Regions from separate parts of the Homo sapiens genome. Here all the other regions are linked to region 2. Evidence: fine-mapped expression QTL. A gene starts in region 2. Each other region holds a variant in brackets. All regions are shown on one strand. Distances are from middle to middle.

Region 1 (5,160 bases), 180 kb after region 2:
GTCAGATAAAGGCTGCAGACTCTGTCCACAGAAAAATTCATGTATGCAAAAAATGTTGCTTGTGATCTCAGCAAGTTCAAGGACCCCACGACACTCACCCCTGGTGTGGGGTTATGAACTACTTACTGGTTAAGAATCTCTGTTCTAGAGTAAGGCTCTGCAAACTAGGGCCCATAAGCCAAATTCAGCCTGCCTGTGTTTTTGTATGGCCAGCAATCTAAGAATGTTTTTTACAGTTTTAAATGATTGAAAAAAATAAGAGAATAATATTTAGTGAAACATGAAAATTATAGGAAACTCTTATTCCAGTGTCCATCCACAAATTTCATTGTGCTCATTAGTAGAGCTGTATTACAAAAAATTGTAGATATTTGTTTCCTCTCTTGTTATATAAGTACCTATATAATACCCTCAACTTTGCATCTTGAACCTCACAGCCTAAAATATTTATATTTAGCCATTCACAAGAAAGTTCACCGACCTTGGTTCTAAATGATTTCAAAAAATGAAATTCTCCAACGCTTTCAGGAGTAAAGCACCAAATATATATTCATATATATTCATATATATTCATATATATATATTCCTATATATATTCATATATATTCATATATATATTCCTATATATATTCATATATATTCCTATATATATATTCCTATATATATTCATATATATTCCTATATATATATTCCTATATATATTCATATATATTCCTATATATATTCCTATATATATTCATATATATTCATATATATATTCATATATATATTCCTATATATTCCTATATATATTCCTATATATATTCCTATATATATTCCTATATATATTCCTATATATATTCATATATATATTCATATATATTCACATATATATATTCACATATATATTCACATATATATATTCATATATATATATTCATATATATATTCATATATATATTCATATATATTCATATATATATTCATATATATATATATTCATATATATATTCATATATACATATATATATTCATATATATATTCATATATATTCATATATACATATATATATTCATATATATATTCATATATACATATATATTCATATATATATTCATATATACATATATATTCATATATATATTCATATATACATATATACATATATATTCATATATACATTCATATATATATTCATATATATTCATATATATATGAATATATATGAATATATATGTATATGAATTTAGTATTTGTAGCAAGATTCCACAAATTGAAAATGTTTGGCTTTGTAAACCAATACTAAGGTATTCACTAAAATGTTCTTTTACATAGTTACTAATATTAGGATTAGGATTTTTAACTATTTGTTTATAGAACAATCACTACTCCGTGACTAAGAATGGGGAAATAGTAGTTGGAATCCTGTAAAGGTAAAAATTTTAAAAGCCACCACAGATTGCTCTTAAAGGATTCTGAGGCAATGCAATTCAATGCAAAACTATGCCTCAAATAAATGTCTAGTTTACACACACTTTAGGAACAGTGACTTAACAGGTTATTTCTCAAGCTAGTATAAATAAATGAAAATTAAATGTTATGCCAAATCAATCTTTGTGTCTCCTCAATAGCCTAGATCTATTTGTAGTTACCTCAAAAATATCCAAGATCAATTACAATTATTGTTGGATGAATGTAAAATATTTCAAAATCCTGGCCTAAGGTCAACAGAATAATCGGGGCCTTCCATCTCTGAGTTCCTGTCTAGAGTTGAATGACTAGATATTTTCTTTTACAGAAGGGTAAACATTTGGTAACAATTTGTTGACCCAATTTTAATACAAGAAAAATAGCACTCATAAATTTTACTAGCGTCATAATATCTTCATTTTATTGCTCATTTGCAAGCATTTATATAATATAAAAGGAAGGCTCTTTTTACGGTCATCATGCATATTTCTATCTTTAGATAATCCCAAAATGCACTGAAATCCATAATTTTAGTTTCCATCAGACTTCACTTTCACACAGAGTACAATTGAATAATCTCTCTTTCACAGTATTTGCTTGGTCATTTCCACACTCCTTGAGTAATGTTCCGTGGGGACTGAAGTGGCCAAAATGCAGGCTGCAGGAGACCCACATAACCTCCAGACTAGTTAATTAGTTTCTCAATAATTGAGAGTTAACTTTAAAAACAGATGCAAGCTGATAGTGGTGTTTAAGTACTAATCGTACTTGTTAATGAATAAGTCCCCATGGCTCTAGAGAGAGCTAAGAAAAAAAAAGTTCATGGGTCAAAAGTGAACCATTGTCCTCACCTAGACCTGGATTTTCTGATCTTATTAATCAGAGAATTCTCCAAGTAAGAGGAACCATTGAAGGCAGGCAGGTTAGTTGAAAGATCAATAGGTGATTGTGAGTATAAGAGGTATAAAGAATAACACAAATGAGAACACAAGTCATGGTTCAGAGCTACCCATATTTGCTGGGAGGAGAAATACAACAGCAGGCCAGGAATCATAAAGGAGTACCTAAACACAGATCAGCACATCACCTAGGAAGAGAGCAAATGATTGACACTTATAAGCAGGGTAACTTTGACATTGTTCCTGAGGAGGTGAACAGGAATTGACCTAAAAATTTGTTGGTGACCACCGTGTAATAATAATGGCAATTCAATTAACTTTAGTATTCTAGTAGGAAACAAAGATTATTTTTTAAAAAATCAAGTTTGTGGCATGGATTGTAGTAATAGTATCATGAGCATCTGTTTGTCTCCAAAGTCATCAATTTGTATACATTGAACATGTGCAGCTTTTGTGTGTCAATCATACCTCATTGAAGTAGTTCAAAGAATTAAGTGGTTATCTAGTTTTAACAAAGGGTATAAACAAAATGTGGGTTTTTGGGAGATAAATAGGAAGAACTGAGCAAAGCAAGGAACCCACAGGAAACCTGGAGACTATTTATGAACATGTCAGTGAAAGTTAGATAAATAGGTAGGCTAAGAGTTTAAAATTATCA[A/G]GGGTTTGACCAACCACAACCACCACCACCACCACCATCAAAACAACACAAACCAAAACAGAACCTTGCATGGCTAATAGAAAGATAATTCTATGTTGAAAAAAGAAAGGCCCAAAGCTACAAAAATATGAAGAATCAGGTACAAATCAGAAATTAAGGGGACCAGAAAATATTCATCCAACATCTTACTTTTGTTACATAACGAATTCCTAGAGGGTAGAGTTTGTTTCTTGATCATCTTTTTATCCACCCTTTACTCATTTAAATACCTGTCACAGAGTATATGCTCAATACTTACTGAATTCAATAAAAAGGGATTCCTAAACCATTAATTAATTTTTGATTTACTAAATAGATCAACCCAATTTAAAAATCAGAGTGCAAAAAGAAGTAAAAGTAGTTTCAAAAATGGTGGCAAAGAAATTGAATAAATCCTTCAGTCTTGTTCTCCACTGAGGAAGACTTTAGGCAGATGGCTAGTCCTAAGCTGTCTTTTGATAAAGATATGAATTGCTAGATCAAACAGTATGAAAAGCACAGGGTATTTTATACATACATATGTACATATGTACATACATGAATCCCATATGTGTATGTATTTTTAAAATTGGAGTGGCTAAATCCATACTAGAAGGTACCTAATTAAGAGTTCTAAAAAAAAGTGATTTAGTGATACTATAGATAAAAATATGTAACTTTATTACAAAGTGTATAAAAAGTAATTTTTTATACACTTTGTAATACACAAAGTAATTCACACCTTTTTATACACAAAGTAATTCACAATGTGTATAATCCAGGTGATTAATGAATTGCTAATGTGACTGGTATCCAGAGTGGTTCAAGAGAGAAGACCACGGAAAGAAGGGTGTAAATGAATATTTAACAGATGATTACAGGATATTAAGGCAAATTAGAAATGCTTGGGGGTACCACTTTAATTATCAGGTGGTAGGGCAGCCACAGGTTTTTATATAAGGTCTCCTCTCATTGACAAATTACTGAGCCATACCAACCTGCAGGTAAAAAAAAAAAAAAAAATTCACAGAGCCCACCAAACTCCCAGCCTTCACCTCATTTGTGATCAACAGCAAGCAATCTCAAGGTAGCTGGCTGTAGCTTACACTGTGACCACGAACAGTGAAGCTCACAGGCCACCATGGTCTCATTAGCACCAGGCTCCAACTAACTGAGCTAACCAGCCCCAGAGGAGAAGGACACAAAATAGAGGAGGTTACATGTAATTTATCTCACGGGAATATATAAAGGATGATAAAGGGAGAATGTTGAGATTTGTGACTATCAAAGAAACTGGACACTATAGAAGATATACCTAATGCTAAATGATGAGTTAATGGGTGCAGCACACCAGCATGGCACATGTATACATATGTAACTAACCTGCACATTGTGCACATGTACCCTAAAACTTAAAGTATAATAATAATAAAATAAAATAAAGAAGATATCATGTACAAGTGTCCTCTGTTTGGCTGCAAAAGTGTAGCATTTTCATTCAACTTTTGAAAAAAGCAGATTTCACAGTGTCTATTAACAGAGATGGGGCAAAGCAGCAAAGGGACTGCTAGGGGATTTATTTTGTTTTAACGTAAAAGAAGCTTTAAGCTATGTGACATACACAGTCTTATTAGCAAAAGGCCCGAATAACTACTCTACTTTGGACCAGTAATTGCAATGAGGAGCAAATCTAGGATATGTGGGGTCTGAAGCTTAGACCACTGGGTGGGGAAGTGGAGCCTTAAGAATGAAACACACGAATATATTTTGCAAATTTTACAAACACATTTTAAACACGTTGCTAGGACCCCTCTCAGGGTTTTGGAAGGAAACCATGCAAATGAGCATCCCTAAACCCCTCATGTTAGTCTCAGGGTAAGTACACCTTAAAAACAATGTTAGTTGAACAAACAGATTACAGTAGGCTTCAGTTGATATACCTAAAAGTAAAATTTTGTCTAATCTTTCAGAAAATGTAGTAAAATCCAGATGATCATGGCATGGTAGCACTCCAGGCACTTCTGTGATATGATTTGGTCAACCTCAATGCGGAAGTTCACATGATCATGACTGTTGTAATTATATTAAGAGCATATTAACCTTATAATTACATAATGCTTGTCTTTCCTAACTTG
Region 2 (5,160 bases):
TCAAAAGCAAAGCACAGTCATTAATGCACGGTTCAAGCAACCCAGAAGTCGATGTCGGATTACCACACCCCCTTCTAACAAATTACAAGACTTGGTTTGGTTACCTGAAAAGACTGTTGATTAACCAGGCTATAAACCAGGATGAAACCTTGGCCGTTTTTGATGTAGAGATCTCTCATGGAGGCAAACTGCTCAGTTCCTGCGGTGTCCAGAATTTCCAGCACGGAGGGGGAAGAGTCCACTTCGATCTCTTTGCGGTAGAAATCTTCAATGGTGGGGTCATATTTCTCAATGAAAGTCCCAGTGACAAACTGCACAGTAAGGGCAGATTTGCCAACCCCTCCACTCCCTAACACCACTACCTTGTATTCCCTCATGAGTCTCACCTTCACCAACTCCTACCAGAGGGGGGGAAAGATCACCCCGCTAGCTGTGGCGCGGCTAGACGAGGCGGAAGGTGGGCGGAAATCTGCGAACTGGGGAGGAGAGTGCAGAGGAGCAGAGGGCCCAACCGGGGAAGAAGAGGAAGTTACAGGAGGGGGAGGGGAAAGAGCGTAGAGTCGGGGAGGGTGGGGAAGGGATGGTAATGCCCTTCCTATAGGAACTGCAGCCCGAGCAGGGGGCGTGGGGAGGAGGGCGAGCCTGGGAAAAGCCCGGCGAGGGTGGCGAGGAGGCGCGTGCCCCCGGGAGGGAAAGGGTGGGGGCTGCGGCGAGGGGACCCTGCGGCGAGGCGGACGTCGGAGGAGCCCGCAGCCCGGGGCTGCCCGGCACTCCTCCCCCGCCCTTCACACAAAGGGGCCCAGGGACCCCGCTTCCTGCTCGCGCAGCCCAGCCGGCTCAGGCCTGAGGGCTCCGTTCCAGTTACCGCTGCCCGGGCGGGTTTCTGGGCCCCGGCTCCCGCGGGGGTCGTCCGGCCTGTGAAGGGGAGAAGGACGCACATTACCCGGCTGACCCCCGCCCCGAACCTGCGGCGCCGGCCGCCGCCTCCCCCAACTCCCACCCGGATCAAGCTACTGCCGCTTACCCCGCCGTCCGCACCCGCCCGGCCGCCGGGGAGGCTCTGTCACGCCAAGGCCATGGCCACCCGCTGGCTCCTCTGTCTCTCCGCTGCCCCAGCGCTGCTGCTCGCCGCGGGGAAAGAAGCGGGGGCCTTCCGCGGCGGCCGCAGGGACTCCAGGCGAACCCACCTCTTTTTTTTCTCACCCACCCCCCACCCCCACCCCCACCCCCACCCCCACCCCCACCAAGCACACACCCGGAAGGGTTTCCCTGACACACTGGCTGAGGTGCCCCAGTTCCCCGAGACTGGACGGGATCACTTCCGGTGGGGAAAGTCCCACCTCTTCGGGGCGAGCCGGGTGGCGCTGGAGCCGCGCCCTGCTGAGCGAGCGAGCCGGCCGGGGACGGTTTCGGGTCGGGACTCCGGCTTCGGGAACGGGCCTCTGGAAACCTGCGACGTCAGTCCTTACCCGCCCGCGGCTGCCGCGGACCGTCCCACCCCCAAACCCGTAGAAGCCCCTCCGACCTGCAACCTCCAGCCGCCCGGCCCTAGGACTTGAGCGGCTCCCTGGCCGGTGCGGAACCTGCGGGCTAATAATCTAGCGACCGGGAGAACGCCAAACATCCCTGGACTAGAAGTTGCAGGGGAAATCAAACAGCCCAGAAAGTTTATTCTCCTTGCTGGTATTTCTTCCACTTGCTATTTTGCTGAGAGATGCATGCAAACTACCCTTAGACTTTCAGATGCAGTGCGTTTTACTTAGCCGTGCCTGACAAACACACAGAACTTTTACCGTCTGGTAGATCCGCCTTGACTTTACCAGCGAATACTAAAGTCACTTAAAAAAAAATCACAAGGCTCGAAAACAGCAGCATTAGAAGTAGACTTTATGGTACTCTGCTCAGCTATGTTCTCATTTGATTCCAACCACTACACGGCAGAAAAGGTAACCAATATTCAAGAAAGATTTGATTGGAAACGGTTTAGGCCTAAAGACTAATTTATTTTAATCGTTGATTATGTATAACAATTTGCTTGGCTGGCTCTTACATGCTGAAGTTTTGTTTTAAAGGCCATCCTATGTAGTCTTTGAAATTCAAAAGCAAGTAGTAACTCTGGTGTTAGATTCTAAGTTTCTATTTTTAGATAAAATTGTTACTTCCGACTATCTTTCCCTTTGCTAGCTTTCTATTTGTAAACTTTGTGTCGGATCCACAGAGCCCCAGGGCCAGGAGTCTAGGCTGTATTTTAGGTGTGTCACTTTCTTTTCAATTCAAGCATGTACCCAGAAACCTGCGAGACTCAGTGGCCAGCCTAGCAAAAATGACTCCAAATTCCCTTACTTACAAGCCCTAAATGGCCAAACTCTATAAAGAGATTTATTACTCAGCCTAAATTGTTGGACATTAGAACACAGGCGAATCATAGTAGTGTGAGGTCCCACTGTCCCTCCCTGAGTATTCCCCAATGTCACTTACAGTCTTCAAAGGAGAGTTTAGTTCAATTTCTCCTTGACCTCAGGCCGGTGCCATCTCTCCAGCGAAGTCCCCAGCTCTGGCTCCAGCTGGCCTGGGCCCTGTGTCGTATCAGAGGCACTGCCCTCTGCTGGAAGGGGTTTGGTCTGTGAGTTATGAGTTTCCCCACAGGTCACTGCTCCTTTCACACGTGCTGTTGCCTGATTTGGAGCTCTGCTGCTCATCTCCCTGCCTAGCTGTCTCCAGACTGTCTGGTGGGATTCACAGCCCTCCACCAGCCGTGCTTGTAACTGAGTCTGGAAATTCCTCTTCTGATCCAGCCAGTGTTGAGCAATCGTGGCAAGTCTTTGCTCTATTACTAAACTGTCAAAGCAAGGAGTTCTTTTTCAGGTCATCCCACCTGTTGGCAATTCTAATATCTCTGAATGTGTTGGTCATGCTTAGGAGAGAGTTCTTTGTTTCTCCACGCAGTGAAACATACTCCTCCCCTCAGTACAGCGTCCTGTGGGGTCACTCTCGTCAACTACAGTGGACAAATATTACACTCAGTCTAAAGATCCTTCTAAACTTTCTTAGGAAGGGTATTCATTACAGCATTGATTAGGAAATCAAACAATTGGAAGAAGCTTAAATGTCCTTCAGTAGGTGATTTTTAAAAGTTTCATAGCTCTCTATATCTATTATCTATCATCTATCTATCTATCTACCAACCTACCTACCTACCTATCTGTATTCACAGAATAGGATATTATGCAGCTACTTTAAAAGAGAAAAGCAGATTTGTAAGTGTTTATATAAAAAGATGGCCAAGATATATTGTAGGGCTGAAAAAGCAAGATACTGAACAAATGTCTAGTTGCTACTGTTTATGTAAAACGCAGGTGTGTAATAGTTACATAGCCATTCAAATCTGAAACAAAGTAATTATGGGTGAGGACTATTATGAAATGGCTTTTATTTCTCCATATTTTAATTTATAAACAATAATTGGGAAAAAGGAAGTAAATATAACTTTATAATATTTTTAAAGGAGGAACAAAAGAAAGTTGTTGATCTTGGTTTTGTAAAAAAAAAAAAAAAAAATCCTGACTGTCTAGGGGTCAGTGGACAGGTCCGCCCAATTTAAACAAATTCCCTACCCTTGCTTGCCCTCCCCAAACATCTCTATACTTAGAAAAGTATTTTCACATACATTATCTCATTAGACTCCTGTTGTTTGCTAGTGTACTCTCATTAAGCAATGAGGGTATAAAGAGCAAGCAGAAGAGTGCGGCCTGGCAGTTGAGAGCTAAGGCTCTGAAATGAGACAGAGGTGCATTAAAATTGCAGCTCCGCCACATTCTAGCTCTGTGTCCCCAAGCAAGTGATTTCACTTGTCTGAGCCTCTAACTCCTCACTTGTAAAAAGGAGATAAGAAGTTAACGTGAAAATGTAATGAGGTATTACAGGTAAAGTGCTTAGCACAGTCCCTTGCACATTATAAAGCCTCAATAAATGCTATTTGGTTTTTATTTAAAAGATTTAATGAATTGTTAATTTTTAAAAAATAGCAAACATGGGGGTAACAAAATTTTAAAAGCTCAAATATCTGCAAGTGGCACGAAAATAATAATTCAGTTACTCTTCACAAAGATATTTATTGTTAAAAGCTTCTTATGTTTTTCAGGGGGGAACATTATTCATATGTCAGTGTATCAATCTACCTTCTATATATATTTTTAAAAATTACTGTACTACAAAAGTAATCAACTGTACACACTATTTTTTACCTTGCTTTTTAAACTTTAATTAATTAATTTTTTTAAGACAGTGTCTCCCTCTGTTACCCAAGCTGGAGGGCAGTAGCATGATCATAGCTCACTGCAGCCTCAACCTCCTGGACTCAAGGGATCCTCCCACCTCAGCCTCCCGAGTAGCTAGGACTACAGGTACATGCCACCACACACAGCTAATTTAATTTAATTTAATTTTTTTGGTAGAGATGGAGTCTTACTATGTTGCCCATGGTGGTCTCCAACTCCTGAGCTCAAGGGATCCTCCCGACTTGGCCTCCCAAAGTGCTGGGATTAAAGGCATGAGCCACCATGTCTGGCCTTCTTAATTTTTATTTCATGGCTGTATCATAAGCTAATTAGCCAGCTCCCCTTTGAAGGACACTGATTGCTTCTAGGTTTTTGCACTAAACGCCTTGGACATATATCATTGTCAGTTAATGTTTAGGGTGAATTTCTAGTAATTCAATAATTGAAACAAAAGGCACTTGCACTTAAAATTCTTCTGGTAAGTATTGCCAAATTGTCCTTCAGAAAGGTCACACCAATTCACATTCCCACCAATGCAGTATGACCGTATCATTTTATAACCTCACAGTAGGTATTACTAATTTTAGCATTTTATAGTGATTGTTACTTGCTTTAGGGTATTTTCAGGACTAACAAATGCAGGGCAGCGTTTTAGAAGGAATTTGGACTTCAGAGCCAGACAGTCCTAACACTGCCCTTTTGCAAGCTACACCTCCATTCCTTCATTTGTAAAGTTGGGCATAATAGCAGTATCTAACTCATAGAATAATAAATGAGAAATCCATTCAAAGCATTTAGCCTTCCAAATATTAATTGCTCAATAAATAGAAACTGCTCAAGTAATAATTTTCTACTCCAAAGGCTTGAATATGGGAAGAGGGGA
Region 3 (5,160 bases), 750 kb before region 2:
AAGGAGGAGCTGGTACCATTCCTTCTGAAATTATTCCAATCAATAGAAAAAGAGGGAATCCTCCCTAACTCATTTTATGAGGCCAGCATCATCCTGATATCAAAGCCTGGCAGAGACACAACAAAAAAAAGAATTTTAGACCAATATCCCTGATGAACATTGATGCAAAAATCCTCAATAAAATACTGGCAAACCAAATCCAGCAGCACATCAAAAAGCTTATCCACCATGATCAAGTGGGCTTCATCCCTGGGATGCAAGGCTGGTTCAACATATGCAAATCAATAAACATAATCCAGCATATAAACAGAACCAAAGACAAAAACCACATGATTATCTCAATAGACGCAGAAAAGGCCTTTGACAAAATTCAACAGCCTTCATGCTAAAAACTCTCAATAAACTCGGCATTGATGGGACGTATCTCAAAATAATAAGAGCTATTTATGACAAACCTACAGCCAATATCATACTGAATGGGCAAAAACTGGGAGCATTCCCTTTGAAAACTGGCACAAGACAGGGATGCCCTCTCTCACCACTCCTGATCAACATAGTGTTGGAAGTTCTGGCCAGGGCAATCAGGCAAGAGAAAGACATAAAGTGTATTCAATTAGGAAAAGAGGTAGTCAAATTGTCCCTGTTTGCAGATGACATGATTGTATATTTAGAAAACCCCATCGTTTCAGCCCAAAATCTCCTTAAGCTGATAAGCAACTTCAGCAAAGTCTCAGCATACACAATCAATGTGCTACAGTAACCAAAATAGCATGGTACTGGTACCAAGACAGAGATATAGCCCAATGGAACATAACAGAGCCCTCAGAAATAAAACTGCATATCTACAACCATCTGATCTTTGACAAACCAGACAAAAATAAGAAATGGGGAAAGGATTACCTATTTAATAAATAGTGCTGGGAAAACTGGCTAGCTATATGTAGAAAGCTGAAACTGGATCCCTTCCTTACACTTTATACAAAAATTAATTCAAGATGGATTAAGGACTTAAATGTTAGACCTAAAACCTTAAAAACCCTAGAAGAGCACCACTGCACACCAGCTTGGGTGATAGGGCCAGACTCTGTCTCAAAAAAACAAACAAACAAACAAAAAAAAACCCCTAGAAGAAAATCTAGGCAATACCATTCAGGACATAGGCATGGGCAAAGACTTCATGACTATAATACCAAAAGCAATGGCAACAAAAGCCAAAATTGACAAATGGGATCTAATCAAACTAAAGAGCTTCTGCACAGCAAAAGAAACTACCATCAGAGTGAACAGGCAGCTTACAGAATGGCAGAAAATTTTTGCAATCTACCCAACTGATAAAGGGCTAATATCCAGAATCTACAAAGAGCTTAAACAAATTTACAAGAAAAAAACAAACAACCCCATCAAAAAGTGGGCAAAGGATATGAACAGACACTTCTCAAAAGAAGACATTTATGCAGCCAACAGACACATGAAAAAATGCTCATCATCACTAGCCTTCAGAGAAATGCAAATCAAAACAACACTGAGATACCATCTCACACCAGTTAGAATGGCGATCATTAAAAAGTCCGGAAACAACAGGTGCTGGAGAGGATGTGGAGAAACAGGAACACTTTTACACTGTTGGTGGGACTGTAAACTAGTTCAACCATTGTGGAAGTCGGTGTGGTGATTCCTCAAGGATCTAGAACTAGAAATACCATTTGACCCAGCCATCCCATTGCTGGGTATATACCCAAAGGATTATAAATCGTGCTACTATAAAGACACATGCACACGTATGTTTATTGCAGCAGTATTCACAATAGCAAAGACTTGGAACCAACCCAGATGTCCATCAATGATAGACTGGATAAAGAAAATGTGGCACATATAACCATGGAATAGTATGCAAACATAAAAAAGTATGAGTTCATGTCCTTTGTAAGGACGTAGATGAAGCTGGAAACCACCATTCTCAGCAAACTATCGCCAAGGGCAGAAAGCCACACACCGCATTTTCTCACTCATAGTTGGGAATTGAAAAATGAGAACACTGGGACACAGGGCCAGCAATATCACATACCGGGGCCTGTTGTGGGTTGGGAGAAGTGGGAGTGTAACAAACCTGCATGTTGTGCACATGTACCCTAGAACTTAAGGTATAATAATAATAATAAAAAGACTCAATTCTACGTATAGCTTATCTTGGGCTAGGTGGAATCTGTCATTTACAGAGTGATCATCCTCATCATGAGTCCTATTATCCATAGCTCAAGAAACCAGGAGGTGTAATGGTTACTAGACAGGGTCCTGTGTAAATTTTCATCACCTCAAGAATGACTAAATATAGCTGGTTGTTTACTCTTCTAATTTTAATTCTGTTGGTTTAAAACGTGAGGAGAAAGCCTCCACACAGCACATTCAATGTGCTCTGGTGTATGGCCACAGACTCCCTTGATTTTAGATTATTCAATCCTCTTAATTTACACTGTATTGGTAGTACTCTTTCATGTTGTACAAAGGATTTTATAGTTCCAATTTTGAAAAGCACCTAATGAAAATTCTTAACTCCAAACTATTTAAATATTACTCTGAATAATGGTCTCGAATACTTGCAATTTGTTTACTCTTACAATTGTACTACTAAAGTCTCATTTTTGAACTCAGAATATAGACTATTAAATTATTTTAAACAGGCAACTTCATTACTCCACCCAAATGATAGACCTTATTAACC[A/G]TCCATCATTAATGCATGCCAGTCTCCTTGACAAAATGCAAATCTTGGATTCTCAAGCAAATGTTTACAAGATGGGCAGGTAGGATCTCAGAATGGCAATATGCTAATGAGAAATTTTATATTTCTATCATCTTGTAGGATTATCCACTGGGAAAATCATAAGATCATTTGTATCTCTTATTGACTATTATTTGATATTTGATGTATGGAAACAAGTTGTATGAGTATATGAATACAGTATGGAATGCTGGCTAGTGATTCTTATATAGAACCTCTACTGTAGTACCACGAAGAGTCATTAGATACACAGTTTTTAAAGAGATACAGAACAATTTTGAATAAAGTGGCATGTGTTTTGGCCACTCTTTCTTTTAAAATTTGTTTTGATGACTGGAGACCACTTTGGACAATTTGGATTCACAAACTCTGTCATAAAAAAAGAAGGATAAACATTCTTCTATATGCAGATGATTTGATTTTACTGCAGAAAACTAAGATTAATTTCAAAAGACACTGTCCCTGCCGTCTAAATACTGTCAGTGCTAATGGCTTCAGATCAGCTCTCCCAAAATCCAAACCATTATTTTTAGTAGAAATCTTCCAATATTTAAGCGGCTTATGAATAACAGCCTTATACAGCATGACCATGTATTTGGTTATGACTATGTATTAGTTACATTGTAATCATTGGCATATGTATTCTCTCTGTAAATTCACCAAGAAATTACATTGTTTTGCTTTTGCGTTAAATGAGATGTTCTATAATTGCTTTGTTGAGGTTTTTTTAAAATTACTATAGTGGGTAATTAGTAATACTTGCTTTAGAAATATTGAACACTAGAATAATTGCAGATATGCCATATAAGTGTTGTTTTTAAATTATATGTTTTTAAATTAATAGACTATTTTTAAGAACAGTTTTAGGTTTACAGAAACAATTGAACAGAAAGTACAGAGAGTTCCCATATACTTCCCTAGCCCCCTGAGATAATTTCCCCTATTAGCATTTTGCATTAGTATGGTACATCTGTTATAATTGATATATAAATATGGATGCAGTATTAACTAAAGTTCATAGTTAGCATTAGAGTTACTCTTAGTGTTGTACATTCTACGGATCTTGACAAATGTATACTGATATGTATCCACAATTACAGTATAACACAGAATAGTTTTATTGCCCTAAAAAATCCTCCTTACTCCATCTGTTTATTCCTCCACCCCTTTCCTCCAAAGCCTGGCAACCACTTATATTTTTACTGTTTTCATCCTTTTCCCTTTCCAATAGTGCTGTATAGTTGGAATCATAGTGTGTTGCCTTTTCAGATTGATTTCTTTGACTTAACAATACGTTCTTAACATTCATCTACGTTCTTTAGTAGCTTGGCATCTTGTTTCTTTTTATTGCTGAATAATATTCTATGGTATGTATGTATCACAGTTTGTTTATCCACTCAACTATTGATATTGAAAGGCATCTTGGTTGCTTTCAAGTTTTGGCAATTATGAATAAACATGCTGTAAAGATTTGTGTGCAGGTTTTTGTGTAAGCAGTTTTCTTCTTTTTTTAAAATTGTATAAATGTAAGGGGAACAAGTTCAACAACTAATTTTGGTAAGTACTAAGAGATACAATTGCTGGATCATATGGTTAAGAATACATTCAATTTTGTAAGAAACTGCCAAACTGTTTGCCAGAGTGACTATACCATTTTGTATTCCCAGTCAGAGTTACTGTTGTTCCACATCCTCATCAGCATTCAGTATTGTGTTATAAATTTTAGCTATTTTAATATCTGTATAATAAGTATCTCATTTTAAATTGCAATTCCCTGATGACTTGATATTGAGCATCTTTTCATATGCTTGTTATTTGTGTATCTTTTTTACTTTCGTTTTTTAATTTTAATTTTCTAACTTTTAATTAAAAATAAAAATTGTATATATTGTATATGGGTTACAACGTGATGTTTTGATGTATATTTACATTATAGAATGACTAAATCAAGCTAGTTGACAAATCCATCACCTTACATACTTCTCATTTTTTTCATAATGGAAACATTTAAAATTTACTTTTAGCAGTTTTAAAATATACAAATGCATTATTATTTATTATAATCACCATTCCGTATGATAGATCACTAAAGCTTATTCCTCCTGTCTAACTGAAATTCTGTACCCTTTGATCAACACATCTCCTTTCCTCGCCTATTGCCCTCTCTCAGCCTCTGGTAATCATCATTCTACCCTTTCTTTCTATGAGTTTCACTTTTTTAGATTGCACATTTAAATGAGATCATGTGGTATTTTTATTTCTGTGCCTAGCTTATTTAGTGTAACATAATATTCTCTAGTTTCATCTATGTTGTCGCAAATGACAGGACTTCATTCTTAAGGCTGAATAGTATTCCATTGTCTATATATGCTATATTTTCTTTA
Region 4 (5,160 bases), 340 kb before region 2:
ACAAAGAACTCAAACAAACTTACAAGAAAAAAACAAACAACCCCATCAAAAAGTGGGCAAAGATATGAACAGACACTTCTCAAAAGAAGACATTTATGTAGTCAACAGACACATGAAAAAATGCTCATCATCACTGGCCATCAGAGAAATTCAAATCAAAACCACAATGAGATACCATCTCACACCAGTTAGAATGGCGATCATTAAAAAGTCAGGAAACAACAGGTGCTGGGGAGGATGTGGAGAAATAGGAACACTTTTACACTGTTGGTGGGACTGTAAACTAGTTCAACCACTGTGGAAGACAGTGTGGTGATTCCTCAAGGATCTAGAACTAGAAATACTATTTGACCCAGCCATCCCATTATTGGGTATATACCCAAAGGATTATAAATCATGCTGATATAAAGGCACATGCACATGTATGTTTATGGTGGCACTATTCACAATAGCAAAGATTTGGAACCAACCCAAATGTCCATCAATGATAGACTGGATTAAGAAAATGTGGCACATATACACCATGGAATACTATGCAGCCATAAAAAAGGATGAGTTGATGTCCTTTGTAGGGACATGGATAAAGCTGGAAACCATCATTCTCAGCAAACTATTGCAAGGACAAAAAACCAAACACCGCATGTTCTCACTCATAGGTGGGAATTGACCAATGAGAACACTTGGACACAGGAAGGGGAACATCACACACCAGGGCCTGTTGTGGGGTGGGGGGAGGGGAGAGGGATAGCATTAGGAGATATACCTAATGTACATGATGAGTTAATGGGTGCAGCACACCAACATGGTACATGTATACATATGTAACAAACCTGCACGTTGTGCACATGTACCCTAGAACGTAAAGTATATAAAAAAAATCACCAGGGTCCCAGACAGCTGAACTTTCGCGGAGTTTATCTCCCACATTTTGACATCTGTGCCTTAGTAAGGGTATCTAAGGTAATTATTACTTCCGTATCAGTTCAATTAGCATAATTACGTCAGTGTAATAGACCAGTGTAATATTTTCTAGAATGTTGAGATAATCAAGACTCCCTTGGACTGATTGTATTATGACAGAGCAGGAAAATAGATTTTGGTCAATGTAAGACTGAGAAGGTGTGCTGTTGACATTAACAGGTAAAGATATACTGTTTCTGATGATTTTTTCTGATGGGAATTTAAAAGGATGCATTTGCTTGGTCAGTGGCTGCAAAACAAAGTGGCAGAGCTGTTTCAGTTTGCTACAATCTGAAGATACCATGTCTGAAACTGCAGTGGTGAATTGCATCACCCTTTTGTTTATAATAATCCACAGTCTTTTATAATACCCACATGACTTTTGCACTTGACAAACAGGTAAATTAAATGAAGTTGTTATAAGAATCAACATCCATGCATTTTTTGAGGCCTTGGTAGTGGCACTGATCTCTGTAGCTCCCCCCAAAGATAAGGTATTGATTTGGATTTATTATTTGGGTGAGGATATTGAGGGGAGAAACAAGTTAATAGGATCTTCACTCGGCCCTTTCTACTGCAAGAGCCCTCATTCCATGGTGATTCTGACAGTTTCTAAGTATACTTATTCCTGCTATATATCAAAGGACTGGGAAAATCATTACAGAGTGCATCTGTGGGACCAATGGATCCAACGTTAAATAAACTTGGGCCAGTGCTCGGTCTATCCCCTGAATTTCAGAAACTACCATTCTGATCAGTAGGCCATGATGGTATTTGGGATCTCCAAGTTAATAAACGGTACCTGATGATTCTTGGAAGAGCTGGAAATTTCTCTTTTCACAGTGCATAGTAGCCCTGGTAAAGGGTTGCATTTCTTTCCGGGTGAGATTTAAAGGAAGATTCACTGTACAGGCACATCTTGTTTAGTGGCGCTTTGCTTTACTGCACTTTGCAGATACTATGTTTGCTACAAATAGAAGATTTGTGGCAACCCTGCATTGGTTAAGTTTACTGGTGTCATTTTTCCTACAGAATGTGCTCACTTTGTGTCTCTGTGTCACATTTTGGTCATTCTCACAATATTTCAAACTGTTTCATGATTGTTATATCTTTTATGGTAATCTGTCATCAGAGATCTTTCTTGTTACTATTATAATTGTTTTGGGGTGCCAGGCATGCCCATATAAGACACTGAAGTTAATCAGTAAATATTGTGCTTATTCTGACGGCTCCACCAACCGGCCATTCCCCCATCTCTCTTTCTCTCCTCTGGCCCCCTTATTCCCTGAGATAAAACAATATTGGAATTAGTCCAATTAATAACCCTGCAATGGCTTCTAAATGTTCAAGTAAAAGGAAGAGTTGCACATCTTTCACTTTAAATCAAAAGCTAGAAATGATTAAGCTTAGTGAGGAAAGCAGGTCAAAAGCTGAGACAGGCTGGGAGCTGGGCCTCTTGTGCCAAAACAGCAGCAGGGTTTGAGAGGATTGACTCCAGTCTTGAAGGAAGTTCTACTGTGTGTAACATGCTATTAAACAGCATCACATGCTATAGAGAAATCTTTCATGAAAGGAAGGGTCAATCGATGTGGCAAACTTCATTGTTGTCTTATTTTGAGAAATTGCCACAGCCACCCTACCCTG[A/G]TCAGTTAGCAGCCATCCACATTGAGGCAAGACCCTCTGCCAACATGAAGATGACGACTTGCTGAAGGCTCAGATGATCATTAGCATTTTTAGCAATAGAGTATTTTTAAATTAAGGTATGTACATTGATTTTTAAAGACATAATGTTATTACACACTTAATAGACTAAAGTATACTTTAAACATAACTTTTATATGCACTGGGAAGCCAAAAAGTATGTGTGACTTGCCACATTGATATATTAACTGTTTTATAGTGTTCTGGAACTGTACACGCCCTGTCTCCGGCATATACCTGTATAGACTTGTGGTTGCATTGTAAGATTCTTCCAAAAAGAGGCATTGCCTCCCCTACAATCAAGGATCTCTAGGCCTGTAAAAAGGAATAGGCTGGGAACCAAATAAGAGACCATTATGATTTCTTACTATGGCAACTTGAGTCAGGTTTCTACTAAAATGTTTCCTCTTGCACAGATTAATTGCACCTTAGTAGGCTACCTATCTCATTCATTTCTCTGAATCTTGTGATTAATTAGCTACCACACCGATCACTGCAGGCCAGAAAACATTCTATATGTGCCTTATTGTGGTAATTTGGCCATCTTGTCAATGATGGTTAAGCACACCACCTGGCCACACTTCTCTGGGATATAATTATTATTGTTCAAAGCTGGGCTCCCAATTCCATGTTGATAACTACCACAATAACCTTGGGATATGGAGGGAAACCACCATAGATCTTTCTTAGCACGGATTTTGTAATGCCTTCGTGAAGACACTGTCTTCTGGTCTCTCCCAAAGGCTGTAGTTAAGGCGTGACTGAGCAAGTTACGTGAAACAGATCTGTGACTTTCCCATCTTTCTTCTTAAATCTTTGTGTTCCTTTCTTAAAACTATACTAAGAAAGTCTGATACCTTAACCCAGTTGACTGTATGCTACAATTGATTTTAAATAACCAAGTCAAAAGACAGTTAGCAATACTCCCAAGTGCTCAAGTTAACAAATTAAATCCAGAATTTCAGATAAATACACCCATATCAATAAATTCAACCAAATACAATTTCATGTTTTTCCTTGTTGGTCTAATACTCTTTGTATACATTTCCATATCTGCCCTTCAAATTCCTGCTGACATAAATTAGCAAACCTTGCAACTCTTTTAACACATACATTATCTCCTCCCTGATCACATCTTGCATTTCTTCTGTGGTATATTGGGACCTAATTTTAAATCCTACATTCAATAAAGGATACTGACAATAGATTCTGAGAAGAATAAATATTTTTTGTGAGGCAACTTCCTCAGGTGAAGACATTGAAAAGACTTCATGCAAAGGAAGAATGGCACCCTCACATTAATGGGTTGGGGTGGATTGCTACTGCTTCTGGATCTGCCCAAATGTCCTCATCCCACAGCTTATGGTCCCACACTTTTCCTACTATTGCCCTTAACCTAGCATAACTTGGTGAGGTTGTGACAGTGCTACAACTTTTGAATTCTTACAATCAGGCCTTTGTCCTGCTTCTCAGCCATGTCTGCCCTTAATATAGGTAGGTTAATGAAGGGATTCTAGTTAAGACTGCCAGAGACTCTGATTCTCCATTCTCTGCTTTGATTTGAGAATTTAAGGTATTAGGTTTATCTTTTCGTCCTACTTCTCTGAACACTCATTCATGTTCTCCTTCAGATGCTTTCCTCCTCAATATAGTCATTAAACATTGGAGTTACTCAAGACTTGCTACTGGGCCCTCTCCTCTTCACATTGTATTCTCTCTCTTTGAGAAAGTATCCATTTCCAGTAGTTTCAATGATCATTTGATGTCTGTAGGCACCTCAAAATCTACATGTACAAAATGTAACCATTACTCCTTTAATATTTGCTCTTCCCCTTATGTTTCTTATTTCAGTGAATGGCACTGCAACCCACACAGTTGACAATGGCAAAATCTTTGATATCGCTTCCAATTTCTCACTCTCAATCATGACCACCCACATCCAACTTATCAATAATTATTGTAAACTGTATGTCCTAAAATTTTACAAAAAACTACATTCTAGACAAAAAAAACCTCCAGGAAGGTAGGAAGAGTATATTTTTCTCTACTGTTTCATCACCATGTGGCATGTAGTAGGTTGCTGATAAATATTGCTGTATTAATGAATCAATCCATAATTGAACAAATGAATGAGTATGCACTTTTCTCCTCATTTTCTTTGCTACTATTCTACTTCAGGTTACCATTACTTCTCACCTGACTTACCACAATGCCTTCTTAACTGGTCTCTCTAACTTTAGTCATCTGTGCTTTCATCTATCCATCATGCTGTAGTCAGATTTACCTCTCCATTCAGGCCATCTCTTTGTGTAAAAGCTTTCAATATCTTAAAGATGTAATAGTTGCATTTTTCTCTATTCCCCCTACTAAGTACAATGAAAAGCCCTGGGCAATATGTATAAAATAAACGTACAAAGATGCTCAAAGGCGAAGAGAAGAAGGCAGATCAGCTAGGGACCTTGACATGCAAAGAATGACAAGGTGGTGACTTCTCTGAGT

The links. PIP is the estimated chance that this variant, and not a neighbour inherited with it, causes the effect.
Region 1: its variant is fine-mapped to the expression of RAP2C in whole blood (GTEx, PIP above 0.99). The same link has a PIP of 0.9 or more in cerebral cortex.
Region 3: its variant is fine-mapped to the expression of RAP2C in sigmoid colon (GTEx, PIP 0.99).
Region 4: its variant is fine-mapped to the expression of RAP2C in whole blood (TOPMed, PIP 0.93).

The regions. Positions count from the first base shown.
Region 1 is chrX:132,395,774-132,400,933 of GRCh38, forward strand. All of the region lies in intron 3 of MBNL3 (muscleblind like splicing regulator 3), which reads right to left. The region is part of intron 2 of RAP2C-AS1 (RAP2C antisense RNA 1); the gene reads left to right. Among named protein-coding and RNA genes, the nearest start is that of MBNL3, 91 kb to the right of the region's middle. The variant A/G (reference allele first, on the strand shown) is at 3,008.
Region 2 is chrX:132,216,892-132,222,051 of GRCh38, forward strand. It overlaps RAP2C (RAP2C, member of RAS oncogene family), which reads right to left and starts at 2,556. Exons shown (of 6, transcript NM_001271186.2): 1 at 2,479-2,556; 2 at 1,341-1,450; 3 at 1,025-1,121; 4 at 105-915. The coding sequence starts at 377. RAP2C-AS1 (RAP2C antisense RNA 1) reads left to right here and starts at 1,616. Exons shown (of 3, transcript NR_110410.1): 1 at 1,616-1,946. RefSeq lists silencers at 546-985, 996-1,045 and enhancers at 2,478-2,547, 2,878-2,927.
Region 3 is chrX:131,465,070-131,470,229 of GRCh38, forward strand. No RefSeq gene overlaps it. Among named protein-coding and RNA genes, the nearest start is that of OR13H1, 76 kb to the right of the region's middle. The variant A/G (reference allele first, on the strand shown) is at 2,720.
Region 4 is chrX:131,875,483-131,880,642 of GRCh38, forward strand. No RefSeq gene overlaps it. Among named protein-coding and RNA genes, the nearest start is that of FIRRE, 47 kb to the left of the region's middle. The variant A/G (reference allele first, on the strand shown) is at 2,605.